Linked DNA regions of Homo sapiens. The protein of the gene in region 3 purifies or fractionates together with the protein of the main gene of each other region. This does not show direct contact. Each region holds a gene or a part of one and is shown on either strand. Other genes may lie near its edges.

What was found. Proteins that work in one complex are often made in the same cells at the same time.
Region 1: the proteins of SLC52A1 (region 3) and SLC49A3 purify together in Homo sapiens (affinity purification with mass spectrometry; one large-scale study listed by BioGRID and IntAct). This does not show direct contact.
Region 2: the proteins of SLC52A1 (region 3) and COL14A1 purify together in Homo sapiens (affinity purification with mass spectrometry; one large-scale study listed by BioGRID and IntAct). This does not show direct contact.
Region 4: the proteins of SLC52A1 (region 3) and FRMD5 purify together in Homo sapiens (affinity purification with mass spectrometry; one large-scale study listed by BioGRID and IntAct). This does not show direct contact.

The regions. Positions count from the first base shown.
Region 1 is NC_000004.12:683,741-686,151, forward strand, and holds part of SLC49A3 (solute carrier family 49 member A3), read right to left. Parts: coding exon 2,349-2,411; intron 2,172-2,348; coding exon 2,095-2,171; intron 1,117-2,094; coding exon 979-1,116; intron 863-978; coding exon of another isoform or gene 860-862; coding exon 743-859; intron 22-742; coding exon 1-21.
Region 2 is NC_000008.11:120,128,102-120,131,601, reverse strand, and holds part of COL14A1 (collagen alpha-1(XIV) chain isoform 1 precursor), read right to left. Parts: intron 1-3,500. UniProt on the Homo sapiens protein: Plays an adhesive role by integrating collagen bundles. It is probably associated with the surface of interstitial collagen fibrils via COL1.
Region 3 is NC_000017.11:5,032,627-5,036,607, forward strand, and holds the start of SLC52A1 (solute carrier family 52, riboflavin transporter, member 1 precursor), read right to left. Parts: upstream 2,801-3,981; 5' UTR 2,235-2,800; intron 2,122-2,234; exon of another isoform or gene 2,088-2,121; 5' UTR 1,981-2,087; coding exon 1,851-1,980; intron 1,733-1,850; coding exon 853-1,732; intron 759-852; coding exon 635-758; intron 544-634; coding exon 331-543; 3' UTR 1-330. UniProt on the Homo sapiens protein: Plasma membrane transporter mediating the uptake by cells of the water soluble vitamin B2/riboflavin that plays a key role in biochemical oxidation-reduction reactions of the carbohydrate, lipid, and amino acid metabolism.
Region 4 is NC_000015.10:43,873,772-43,877,271, forward strand, and holds part of FRMD5 (FERM domain-containing protein 5), read right to left. Parts: exon of another isoform or gene 2,035-3,500; intron 692-2,034; coding exon 114-691; 3' UTR 1-113. UniProt on the Homo sapiens protein: May be involved in regulation of cell migration. May regulate cell-matrix interactions via its interaction with ITGB5 and modifying ITGB5 cytoplasmic tail interactions such as with FERMT2 and TLN1.

The sequences.
Region 1 (2,411 bases), on a different chromosome or scaffold from region 3:
GCCACAGAGGCCGGAAAACCCCTGGAGGAGGCGAGAAGAGGCCAGGGCCCCAAGAGGCCACCATTATCCTAGGTGCATGCCGTCAGGGCAGGGGGCTCAGTGTAGGGCCGTGTGCTGTGCCCAAGGCCCAGGCATAGCAACACAGCTTCCAGACGCACCGCTGGCTGCCTGCGGGGTAGGGTTTCCTGCCTTGTGTTTCCCACCCCACCCCAGAGCAAAGCAATCGCTAAAGGGAAGAGCCTGTCTCCACAGAGGCCCCACAGGGCCGTGGTGCCTGTGGCCCTGGCAAAGGTGGAAACATGCCCCCAATCCTACACTGAGCACTGATCCCAGAAGGCAGAGGGCAGAGGGCCAGCTCGGAGATATGCGAGCAGAGCAAGGCCCTCCCCGCTGCACGTCTGGATACCAGAAGGTGGCGCTGTCCTGCAGACCCACAGGGGCGGGGCCTTGCTGGGAAGGGGCACTGGGAGCCCTGGGGGCCCCACCTTCCCATCCACAGGGCACCGTCAGTCCCTCCGCTCCGTCCCACAGCTGCCCCACCCCACTGCAGCTGTGCCCACCACCTCCACTGCCTGTGGACATAATGTCACACAGGGCATCTCGGGAGGGCCCACAGCACAGAAGGGTGTCAATGTGGCCCCCGCCAGGGTCGGACACTGGGCACCCTGGAGGCGGCGGTGACTCCATGGCCATATGGGGCGGATGACAGAGGCAGGGTCCCCAGGGGTGGGGCCAGGCTCACACTGGAGTGGCCGCTTGCACAGAGGATCTGCTCCAGGAGGGCTGAGAAGCTGGCAGAGATCCCGATCATTCCCCCCAAGCACACAGCCAGGATGACATAGGCCTTGTTCCACATGAGCTGCTGGGAAAGAGCGTCTCAGCCCCGGAGCCCGGGGGCCCTTCCCAAACCCATCGCCTCCTCAGCCTCTTGCCCCCACCCCCAAATCCACCCTACCCCGGGGATCCCACGGCACTGACCAGCTTGAGCCCATCCAGGAACTTCTCTGAGGTGGAGCTGGCAGCCCCGGCAGAGGGCGGGGTGGGGGGCACACTCTCCCACAGGCAGATGGTGGACAGCAGGCAGACGACGCCAGCAGGGATGGTATAGACACCGAGCTGGGGAGGGGTGTGTGTGCACAAGGAGACCACGCAGACTGGCACCCACACACGCCGCAGCCCTGCCTGTCCCAGGCGCCACCTCCCAGCTCCTCCTGCCCCACCACCGGCTGCCTCCCAACCTCTGGTCTGCAGCTGCCCTTTGCGAGGCCCAGGCTGGGAGGGGCCTGCTCCAGGGGCTCATGGGGACCCCTGGCTGTCAACGCATCCCTCACCAGTGACACCCTCCTGGCTGATGTTAGCCCAGCACCCCCAGGCTCCAGACTTACATCTCACTGCCAGCTGCACAGCCCATGATAGGGCTCAACACACAGACACAGGTGGGTGCAGAGGCACACGTGCATACAGACTCACGCTCAGTACATACCCCCAAGCACAAACACACCACCCGCACCTGATACACATGCACGAGCACACACAGGTACACACCACACATGTGCACAGACACACAGACACATATGCACACATCACACAATACACATGGGCACAGGAACAGAGACACGCACCGCACACACCACACACACTCAATACACACAGGCAGGCATAGAAACATCACACACTGGCCGGGCGCGGTGGCTCACGCCTGTCATCCTAGCACTTTGGGAAGCCGAGGCAGACGGATCATGAGGTCAGGAGTTCGAGACCAGCCTGGCCAACATGGTGAAACCCCAACTCTACCAAAAATACAAAAAAAAAAAAATTAGCCAAGCATGGTGGCGCACGCCTGTAGTCCCAGCTACTCGGGAAGATGAGGCAGGGGAATTGCTTAAACCCAGTAGGCGGAGGTTGCAGTGAGCCGAGATCGCGCCACTGCAATTCAGCCTGAGCGACAGGCTGAGACTCCTTCTCGGGTGGCGGGGCGGGGGACGGGAATCACACACGGGCACAGGAACACGGACACACTTGGGATCAGGAACACACAGACGTGCATGCGCACACACCACACAGACCAGGCACGGGCGTCTCATGACCCCTCACCATTAACGGAATGTCCTCACCCTTCTTGACCAGCACAGGGGACAGCACATTGGCCACAAGGACGCCCAGAGGGTTCGCTGGGTGGGCGGATGCACAAAGTGTCAGCTCGGCTGTGGCCTGGCTTCATCGCCAGCCCACAGGCAGAACCTTCCGGGCCCCAGCTCCTCCACCCTGGCCAGAGAGCCTGGGGAGCCGAGCGTCTGTGTGGACCCTGAGGTGAGCCCAGGCAGGCGGCCTCCCTCCCCGGAACTCACACATGGTGGCGAGCATGTTGGCCGTGGCTCGCTGGTGCTCTGGGAACCACAAGGCAGCCAGCT
Region 2 (3,500 bases), on a different chromosome or scaffold from region 3:
AGAATCTATAATGAACTTAAATTATTCAACAAGCAAAAAACAAATAACCCTATTAAAAATGTAGGCAAAGGGCATGAGCGGATATTTCTCAAAAGAAGACATACAAGCAGCCAACAAACATGAAAAAATGCTCCACATTGCTAATCATCAGAAAGATGCAAATCAAAATCACATTGAGATACTATCTCACACCAATCAGAATGGCTATCATTAAAAAGTCAAAAAAAAAAAAACAGATTTGCAGAGAAAAGGAAATGCTTATACACTGTTGGTAGGAATGTAAATTGGTTCAGCCACTGTGGAAAGCAGTTTGGAGATTTCACAAAGAACTTAAAAAACTACCGTTCAACTCAGTAATCCCACTAATGGATATATACGCAAAGGAATATAAATAATTCTACCAAAAAGACACATGCACTCCTATGTTCATCACAGCACTCTTCACAATAACAAAGATGTGAAATCAACCTAGATGCTCATCAATGGTGGACTGGATAAAGAAAATGTGGTACATATACACCATGGAATACTACACAGCCATAACAAAGAACAAAATCATGTCCTTTGCGGCAACATGGATGCAGCTGGAGGCCATTATCCTAAGTGAATTAACAGAGGAACAGAAAACCAAGTACCACATATTCTCACTTATAAGTAGGAGCTAAACAGTACACATGGACATAAAGATGAGAAAACAGACAGTGGGGACTAATAGCGAGGGAAGGAAAAAAAAGGGGGTGAGGGTTGAAGAACTACCTTTTGGGTACTATGCTCACTACCTGGGTGATGGGATCATTCATACCCTAAACTTCAGCATGACACATATACCTATGTCATAAACCTGTTCTTGTATCCCCAAACTTAAAATAAAAGTTGGAAAAAAAAGAATCCATTTCATCCAGGCTTTCTAATTTATTGGCATATTTTTATTTTAATTACCATTAAATTCTTTTAATTTTCTCCAAGTTAGTGATGTTTCCATTTTACATTTCTTTCCTTGTACACGTAGGCTTTCTTTATTTTGCTTTTTAAAAGACAAAAAGCTGAATAAAATGCACAGTGATTTTTGTTTAAGAGAGAAATATCAAATGGAAGGGGAAAGCAACAGTAAAGTAGGAATAAGGGAAGGAAGAAGAAAAGGGAAAATGATGAAGAGGAAGAAGATGAGGAGGCAGAGGAAACAAAGAAAAAATAAGGGGAAAAGAGAGAAAAGAAAACAGTATAAAGGCAGAAAGGATACAAGATGACCTATCTGGCCAAATGTGGGCCAATGTTGCCTAGATTGGTGCTACTCAAAGTAGCTGGTCTATGAACTGTTACTGGTCCTCAGTGAGATAAGGAGCTTATGCCAATATGCAAGTCTATGTATTCTTTTGCTTCCTTCGTCAGAAAAGCTTTGCTATGAAAAAATAATGATAATCTCCGTTGAACTAACAGTGTGCTTGGTGAACAGTGCGCTTATTGACATATTTGATTTACATCATCGTGTAGTTTTTGTCTTATCAGAGGCAGGTAACAGTTTGTGGATGGGCACCAACCAGCAGTAGCACCAAACTTGATCCTTCACCAACCAGGCCTCTGATGAACTGCATCTGTCCCTCATCTTATTGAGGTTCTCCAGCTAGTTTCATGGCCTCAGTCACTGTTTTAACCTTCTAGATCTTGGGCACTATCAGACATCTAGATGGGCAGTTTAACCCATATTCAAGAAAGTTCAACACACATAGGCAATCAGTAAATATTGATTGATTTAATAGTTAATGACTGAATGATCAGGGCTAATGTGTGTACAGCTCGCAGTTAATGAACTAAACAATTTACACTTCGCCTAGGGTCAATGACACTTGAAATTGGCAGACACTCTGCTCCCAAGTTGTGTGCCCCAGTGCAAAGCTGTGTTATCCAGATAAAACAGAACTGTTTTCTTCTCCCATGCCATAGGTTTGCACAGAGAGGCTTCCTTTTTCTAATTTACAGAAAAACTATATTAGGTTAGCAGCATCCCTGTGAATCACTCAAACGCAAGGAATTTGACTGAAAATTAGCCTCAGTTATACAGCTGCTCAATCAGTATTAAACTCATGCTGTATGTTCTAAATGACAGAAGGTAGAGCCATTCCAAAAGTATGGCAAATTGGAATGACAGCTGCTTGACACAAGAATGTTCTTCACCTGGCTTTTTTTCCCTCTCTTCATTTTTTTCAAACACTGACATAGTTCATCTGTCAAAGAAATGGGAGACTGTTTTTAACTACAATGTACATCTGTAATCAGTATAAAGGGTAGCTTTACATCTCAGTTTAGACATCCTTTCCTTCAGGAAGTTTTCCTTGATCTTCCAAGTCTGGGGTCAGGTGCTCTTCCTGTTTCCTATAGTAGTAATCTTTATTTTCCATTCTGCAGCATTGAACACTACCCCGTAGTTAGCTATTGGCATTTCCATTTGCCAAAGCATATTATTCCCTACTGTATTTTGAATGCTTAGCACAGTGCCAGCACATGGCAGGAGACAGGGCTGGGAAGTGAAGGAAGAACAGAAGCAAACAACCTGCAGCAAATTATCATTTTTAGACATCAATTAAATGTTCTCCTCTTTGCAAAAGCCAGAGACAAAAGGCCACCCAGAAATAGATCTTTATCCAATAATGGGCCCTCTGACTGCTCCTAGATAAAGACACACCCTAAGACATTGCAATGGACTTAGCAAAGCACAACCTACCTCTGGACCAATTTTTGTAAGCAACTCAGATAATTTCTAGGAGAAATGAGGCAAAACATTGCTCTCTAAAATTCACAGAGACACCTTTCAGGGTAGCTCCGACAAAGGCCCATAGAGAGAAAAGTGCAACAAGACCACTAATAAAAAAATTACCTGGAGGAAACGGGGAGTCTAGGCTCTAAACTTTGACTTAAAGAACGCTCAGAATTTCCTATAGACTCTCTTTTATATTCTCAATGCCCGCCTCAGCCTCCCAAGTATCTAGGATTACAGGTGCCCACCACCACGCCCAGCTAATCTTTATATTTTTAGTAGAGATGGGGTTTTGCCATGTTGGCCATGCTGGCCTTGAACTCTTGACCTCAGGTGATCCTCCCAAAATGCTGGGATTACAGGCATGAGCCACTGTGCCTGGCCCCATATAGACTTTTCTTAATCATATTTCTGTCACTTGCTGTCTTTGTGATCCCATACAAGGTGCTTTTTATCCTTGAAGCTCAGTGATTGCTAAAGGAGGAATATTATTTTCTTCCCCAAGTAACTGGGAGACTTAAGTGTGTTTCTAAAAGAGAAAAAGGCAGATACCCAGTAAGTACTCAAAAAATATGCCAACATTTCCAACACACACACACACACACACACACACACACACACGCGCGCGCACACACACACACACACGTCACAGGAACAGGATGCAGTTTGGTCTACAACAAAAGCTTAGTGTATACAGAAAAGTAACTGGATCCCTGCCATTTTTTATTTACTCACAGAAGAAGTCAAG
Region 3 (3,981 bases):
GTTTCCTGATTTCATTATATATTTCTTATAAGGTTTTCATTAGGCTTTTGTTTTTGTTTTTGGTTTTAAATAAAAACACTTTATTGCACAAATCCCACAAAGGTCTCAGGCCCTGGGTCCAAGCCCACAGCCCCAACCTGTCCCCTGGCTCTGGGCCTGGTCTTTGGTGCCCACCCTGGCCTCACATGCCAACGTCTTCTGTGGAGTGTGCAGGTGTCCATGAGCGTTCCTGTGTTGGGGGAAGCCTGCCTGGGCCACAAGTAGTCAGGCACTGTGGCAGCCTCACGATGAAGACAGGTGGGGTGGAGTTGGGTCCCCACCTGCCCAGGCTCAGGGGCCACAGGGGTCTACACAGTCCTTTCTGCTTTGAAACACGTGGTAGATGCTGGTGGGAGGGAACATGGCACCGGCACCAAGCAGGGAGCCCACTTGGATGGCCACACCAGCTGCCAGCAATGCCGGCCGACCCCCACCATGCAGCAGGGAGCTTGCAGCCACCTTCACATATGAGAACACACACAGACACAGCACCCACGACAGCACCTGCAAGGGAGGACACAGCAGCAGGCTGAGCATGACATGCACTTGCTCCAGGGGACACCCTCCTCCCCACTTCATGTCTCCACTTGCTCACCACAAGGACCACCCCTGCAGTGGTGCCCACCAGGGGTGGGCAGGGGCTCAGGATTGCCAGTGCCATCAGGTAGGCCCCAAAGAGCATGCCCAGCAGAGAAAGACCAACCAGCCCTGCCAGGGACCTGTTGGGGATGAGCAGAGACTCAGGGCTGGCTGTTCTGGGACCTGGACCCCAACCTTAAGTTCCACCCACCAAGCCTGGGGACCCTTTTGCACCTGCACAGCACGCCCATGGCCAGGAAGCAGGCAAGGGGGTTGGCGGCACTGCCCAGCACCACAGCCAGGTGGTAGGCCAGGCGCCCATAGGGCAAACAGGAAAAGCTCTGCACAGAAGGCAGCACGCCATTGGTCACGGCACTGGTGAAGGCCATCAGGCCCAGCAGGAAGGCACCATGGGCTGAGAACAGCTGATGGGCCTCAGGGTCTGGGCCAGGGATGGTGCCTGCTGCCTGGCTCGGTGGCTCCTGCAATGGCAAAGCCTCTTCTTCCTCCTTCTCTTCCTCCTCTGCTCCTGGGGATCCCAGTTGAAGTTCAGGCCCTGAGCCCCCTGTGGTTACAGAGGGTAGTGATGGCAACAGCAACAGGAGACCCCGGAAGGCGGCAGCTGAAGTGACCAGAAGGGCAGTCAGTGCCCAGAAGAAGGTGCTGGCAGGAAAACGCTCAGGGAAGTCGAGGGGAGGCCCAGAGGTGCCATTGGTGGGCGCTGGTGGGCACTCGAGGCGGCCCACACCTTGCACTAGGGCCAGCACACAGGGGAGTAGGGCACTGAGACCCTGACCCAGGAAGAAAGACCGTAAGAAAGGAGGTGGCAGGTGGCTCAGGAAGGGCAGGAAAGTGACATTAGAGGTACAACAGGCCATTGCCAACACCAAGGCCAGAGTTAGGAAGGCCACAGAGTGGAGCTGCCCTGCCACTGGGGCCACGTGGTGCCACAGAGGGGCCAGCAGGGCTGTGCCCACTACACTCAGCACCTGTACCACCTGGATGGGGACCTGCTCGCCCTTGCCCGGGGCCAGCTGCCTCCACAGGGTCACCACCAGCAGACCCAGGTTTCCCAGCGCCACAACCACAGAGAGGTATGAGGGGAGGCTCCAACCTGCAGGGAAGGAATGATGCCATGTCAGGAGCACAGTGGCTAAGGGACAAAGAGCTGCCACAGGCCACCTTTCTGGGCATACCTGCCCCACGCTTCCCTGTACCTCCCTCCCACTCACCCTCTGGAAGGTCTTTTACCACCACAGGCAGCTCCACCCAGATCCCGTTCACAGCAGCCCAGGAGCCCATGCCAAAAAGGGCCACCAGCAGGTGGGTCAGCACCAGACGGCCCAGCGTGGGTGCTGCCATTCAGCCCAAAGCTGGACCCTCCAGGACAGGGCAAAGGTCACAGGCAGGTCCTTCCCTAGGTAGGTCCAAAGATGCTTTGGTTCTTCTGGAAACTGAAGACCTTCTAGCTGGAGGGAAACAGACAGGCTGGCAGGTAATAGGCTGGTGGGACAGAACCGGAGTCAGAAGACAAGTCGGTCAGACTGCTAAGACCAGGGCAACTGGAGGGAGAGGTGGCCGGGGGCGGGCGGGGAAGGTGGGGAGCCAGGACTTACCACGGGGCACCGGCTGTGCGTTTGGGTACAGCGACCCAGCAGTGCCGGCAGGCAGACAGGCAGAAAGCTGGCCCGAGGTGCAGCTGCCCCAGAGGAGCAAAGAGGGAGCTGATTTTCCTACCCACAGAGGACCCGGGGTCCAAGTTGTCAAAACAGCTCAGCACTGGCCGGGTGCGGTGGCTCACACCTGTAATCCCAGCACTTTGGGAAGCTGAGGAAGGCAGATCGCCTGAGGTCAGGAGATTGAGACCATCCTGGCCAACATGGTGAAAACCCGTCTCTACTAAAAATACAAAAATTAGCTGGTCGTGGTGGTGGGTGCCAGTAATCCCAGCTACTCAGGAGGCTGAGGCAGGAGATTCACTTGAACCCGGAAGGTGGAGGTTGCAGTGAGCCAAGATCACACCACTGCATTCCAGCCTGGGCGACAGAACGAGATTCGGTCTCAAAAACAAAACAAAACAAAACAAAACAAAAAAACAGCTCGGCACCAACACGCTCACCCTCAAATGGACCCCGGGACAAGGGCACGTCTCTGGTGCCACTTGCAACCCTAGCGCTTTTGCGACACTCAGGACTTGCTGAGGCAGGTCGAGTTGGAGAGGGGAGTGGCTGGGGCGGGCTCTGCCCGGAGGGGCGTCTCCGTGCTGCCCTCCCGCCTGCCTCAGGGGGGCATCCCGGGAGCCGCCAGGTGCGCAGGGGTCCCCGCACCTCCGGATCCGGCAGTCCCCGGACCCAGCGGCTGGCGGTCTGCCTGAGAGGGAGCCCCCTCCGCCGGGGAGGCGGCCCAGCCCAGAGCCCACACAGCTGGGGTTTTGTTGTTTGTTGTTTTAATTAATTAATTAATTTTGAGACGGGGTCTCACTCTGTCACCCAGGCTAGAGCGCAGCGGTGCGCGATCGCGGCTCACTACAGCCTCAACCTCCCAAGCTCAAGGGATCCTCCCACTCAGCCTCTCCCCACCCCCCCACAAGTAGCTGGGACCACAGGCGAGCATCACCATGTCCAGCTAATTTTTTTTTTTTTTTTTTTTTTTTTTGGTAGAGACAAGGTCTCACTATGTTGCTCAGGCTGGCTTGGCACTCCTGGGCTCAAGCAATCTTCCTACCTCAGCCTCCCAAGTAGCTGGGACTACAGACGCACCACACCTAGCTACCGCCACGCTCAGCTGTTTTTACACTTTTTTTTTTTTTTTTTTTTTTTGAGACGGAGTTTTGCTCTTGTTGCCCAGGCTGGAGTGCAATGGCACGAGCCTCTGCCTCCCGGGTTCAAGCCATTCTCCTGCCTCAGCCTCCCGAGTAGCTGGAATTACAGGCGCCCACCACCATGCCCTGCTAATTTTTGTCTTTTTAGTGCACAGGGTCTCGCCATGTTAGCTAGGCTGGTCTTGAACTCCTGACCTCAGGTGATCCACCTGCCCCGGCCTCCCAAAGTGTTGGGGATTACAGGCGTGAGCCACCGTGCCTGGCCAGCTGTTTTTACACTTTTAAATGGTTGAAAAAAAATTAGCTGGACGTGGTGTGCACACCTGGCTAATTTTTGCTTTTTTTTTTTTTTTTTTTTTTTTTTGAGACGGAGTCTCGCTCTGTCGCCCAGGCTGGAGTGCAGTGGCGCGATCTCGGCTCACTGCAAGCTCCACCTTCCAGGTTCACGCCATTCTCCTGCCTCAGACTCCCGAGTAGCTGGGATTACAGACGCCTGCCACCACGCCTGGATAATTTTTGTATTTTTCGTAGAGATGGGGTTT
Region 4 (3,500 bases), on a different chromosome or scaffold from region 3:
GAGAGGAGGACTTGGTATATGTGCCGATGGTTCCGCGATGGGTCCCATTGCTGGGAATGGGTAGCCGGGTTCCTTGGTCCACCTGGCTAGTTTTTGGGAGGAGTCATGCCTTCTCAGGTGTCAATGAGCAGGCTCACCACTGAGCGGATTTTGCAGGCAAACCATCGCCTGAGGGGACAAAAGTATTGATAGTGGAATTGTTCAAACTCGGGGGTCTGGCGGATATCACGGAAAAAGGCAATGTCAAGGTCAGACTCGGTAAGGATGATCAGGAGGAGGAGCAAAACAAAGAGGAGTCCCATGGTCACAAGGAGCAAACGGAGGACACTTAGAACAAACTTATTCACCTGTTCCTCCTCGGGCCCGCTGTGCCCCTGACACAGGGCCCTCAGCTCTCCCCCAAGGGCCTCCACCTCTGTAGCAGTTGGGGTGCTGGCTTCAGATTCCTTCTCCTCCTCAATGCTGCAGGTGGCTCCATTGATCTGCCGGGAAAGCAACATCAGCTCCAGGCTGTGCTCAGCCACAGGGGTGGGCAGCACGCTGTCTGCAGGGCTGTAGGCCTCGTCTGCAATCACAGCTACTCGCTCATTGCTATCTGTCCGGCTGCTTCTCACGTGAGGCAGGAAGGTGTCCCCATGGGAAGTGGAACGCACTGGTGTGGAATGGGCACTGTCCCGTAAGGACTCTAGGCCTAGAAAGGCAAAAGGAACATGAGTAGGCTGTGTCCCAATGCACCCTTTGCTTTCCAGTAGCACCCATTGTGTTTTATTGGGTACCATTCTGCACACCCACATGACCAGCAGCAGTAGCCACTGCACTCTATTTTGATATATCGAGAAGACGACAGGCCGGGTATGGTGGCTTACACCTGTCATCTCAGCACTTTGGGAGGCCGAGATGGGTGGATCGCTTGAGGTCAGGAGTTCCAGACCAGCCTGGCCAACGTGGTGAAACCCCATCTCAACTAAAAATACAAAAATCAGCCGGGCCTGGTGGCACATGCCTGTAATCCCAGTTACTTGGTGGGCTGAGGCAGGAGAATCGCTTGAACCCGGGAGGCGGAGGTTGCAGTGAGCTGAGATCGCACTATTACACTCCATCCTCGGCAACAGAGTGAGTAAGATTCCATCTTAAAAAAAAGAAAAAGGCTGGGCGTGGTGCCTCATGCCTGTAATCCCAGCACTTTGGGAGGCCAAGGCGGGCGGATCATGAGGTAAGGAGTTCGAGACCAGCCTGGCCAACATGGTGAAACCCCGTCTGTACTAAAAATACAAAAATCAGCCACGTGTGGTGGCGGGCATCTGTAATCCCAGCTACTCAGGAGGGGAGGCAGGAGAACTGCTTGAACTTGGGAGGCAGAGGTTATAGTTAGCAGAGATCGTGCCACTGCACTCCAGCCTGGGTGACAGAGCAAGACTCTGCCTCGGGGCGAGGAGGAAGCCAGGTGTGGTAGTGCATGCCTGTTGTCCCAGCTACTTTGTAGGGGGGCAGATTGCTTGAGCCTGGGAGGTCAAAGCTGCAGTAAACCAAGATCACACCACTGCATTCCAACCTGAGCAACAGAGAAAGACTGTCTCAAAAAAAAAAAAAAAATATATATATATATATATATATATATATATGTATGTATGAAACAAGAGAAGGCACAGAAATCACAGTGGCCATTTTAGAAGAGTTTTTCTTTGCTTTTTGCTTACGGTTTTGGCCTAGTTTGTGTGTGTTTTGAGATGGAGTCTTACTCTGTCGCCCAGGTTGGAATGCAGTGGTGCAATCTCAGCTCACTACAACTTCTGCCTCCCGGGTTCCAGCGATTCTTGTGTCTCAGCCTTCTGAGTAGCTGGGAATACAGGTGTCTGCCACCACACCCAGCTAATTTTTTTATTTTGAGTAGAGACGGGGTTTTGCCATTTTGGCCAGGCTGGTCTAGAACTCCTGGCCTCCCAAAGTGCTGGGATTATAGGTGTGAGCCACCGCACCCAGCCCCTAATTTGTTAAAGATTCTGCCTTTCTTGCCTTTGGTGTCCTGGGCCTAGTTTTTTTTTTTTTTTTTTTTTTTCTTTCAGTCTTTCATATGATTTTATTTTCTTCCTTCAACCATAATAATATGATATCCAAATTTTGTCTTAACTGCTGGGTCTGTAAACACAGGCTTATCCATCACACTTATAGGCAAGGCAAATGCTGCTTCTTGAAATGGTCCCACCATGGACCCTCTGGTCATCCAACCCAAGACGCCCCCTTGCCTGGCTTTATCTTCACTATATTGTGTGGCCACTTCATTGAATCTCATCCCAGACTTTAACTTTTCCATGGCTTCCATGATTTTGCCATGTTTTTCCCATAGAATGTGTCTGACCTTTACTGCATTGCCACCACCTTTGGGACCTTGAGCCTTCTTGTCAGCACTGTCACTCCCAGAGGCTGCACCCCCTTTCCCCGCTTTTCCAGAACCACTTTTTCCTTTGGGCGGCATCTTGGAAGCTTGTTGTTGAACTCTGAACTCTGGGCCTGGTTTTTACCCCAGTTTGAAAGAATCTGAATTCCAAACTACCCCTGATGCAGAGCTGGGACCACGGTTTGAGTCTCAAGTCTGCCTGTTGGGTGGAGGGCTTTAAGAGGCAGGAATGGGCCAGACACGATGGCTCCCATCTGTAATCCCAGCACTTTGGGAGGCCAAGGCAGGTGGATCACTTGAGCCAAAGGGTTCAAGACCAGGCTGGGCAACATAGACACTGTAACTATAAAATTTTTAATAAAAGAGAGGTAGGAATGGGGAGAAGGGGAATATGTCATGCCTAACTGGGTTTCATCAAATACCGAATATCCTTGTAAAAACCCAGCATACAGCATCTTGAGCTTATAAGGTCAATATTTTTGGATTTCTGCAGCTGCTCTCAGTCTCTTCAGCCTCCGTTCTAGCTGTTCTGACTTTGTGGAATGATGGGGTAGAAACTCTCTCTGCTCTTCTTGAGGGGGCATGGGAGTAGTCCCTGGCCAGCTCCCTCTCTTTTCCTCTGAGAAGGAGCTGGGTCTAGAATAGGCTGAAAAGCTCCCCTATCTTTAGACACTTCAGAGCACAAAACAGTTTGAGAAGATCTTGTTGCGGGGGTGGATTTCTCTTACATTTGGTAGGAGGAAGGGGTATTCTATCCCCTAAAACTACCCATTATCTCTTCTCTCTTCCCAAGGTTCTCACAGGACTCAAGCCCTGGCAGGGAAAACAGGAGCTGGTTACACTCTCAACTGAACAGCAGCCACCCAGGCCAGAGGCTTTGGGCATATAGTGAGTGAGCGCGGCCCCCATCACAGTGCTCCCAAGGAAATGGCTTCTTGTTTTAGGCTCAATGTCTGCATTTTCCACTCCTGGCCATCTTGGTGATGCTGGTGTGGTTCTCTCTGCCTTTGTGACCTATGACAAGAAAAGCCAGTCCCCTTCTGTTGCCCTGAAATAGTCCCTGACAATCCCAGACTGAACCAGATTCCCAGCTCAGTAAAGGTTT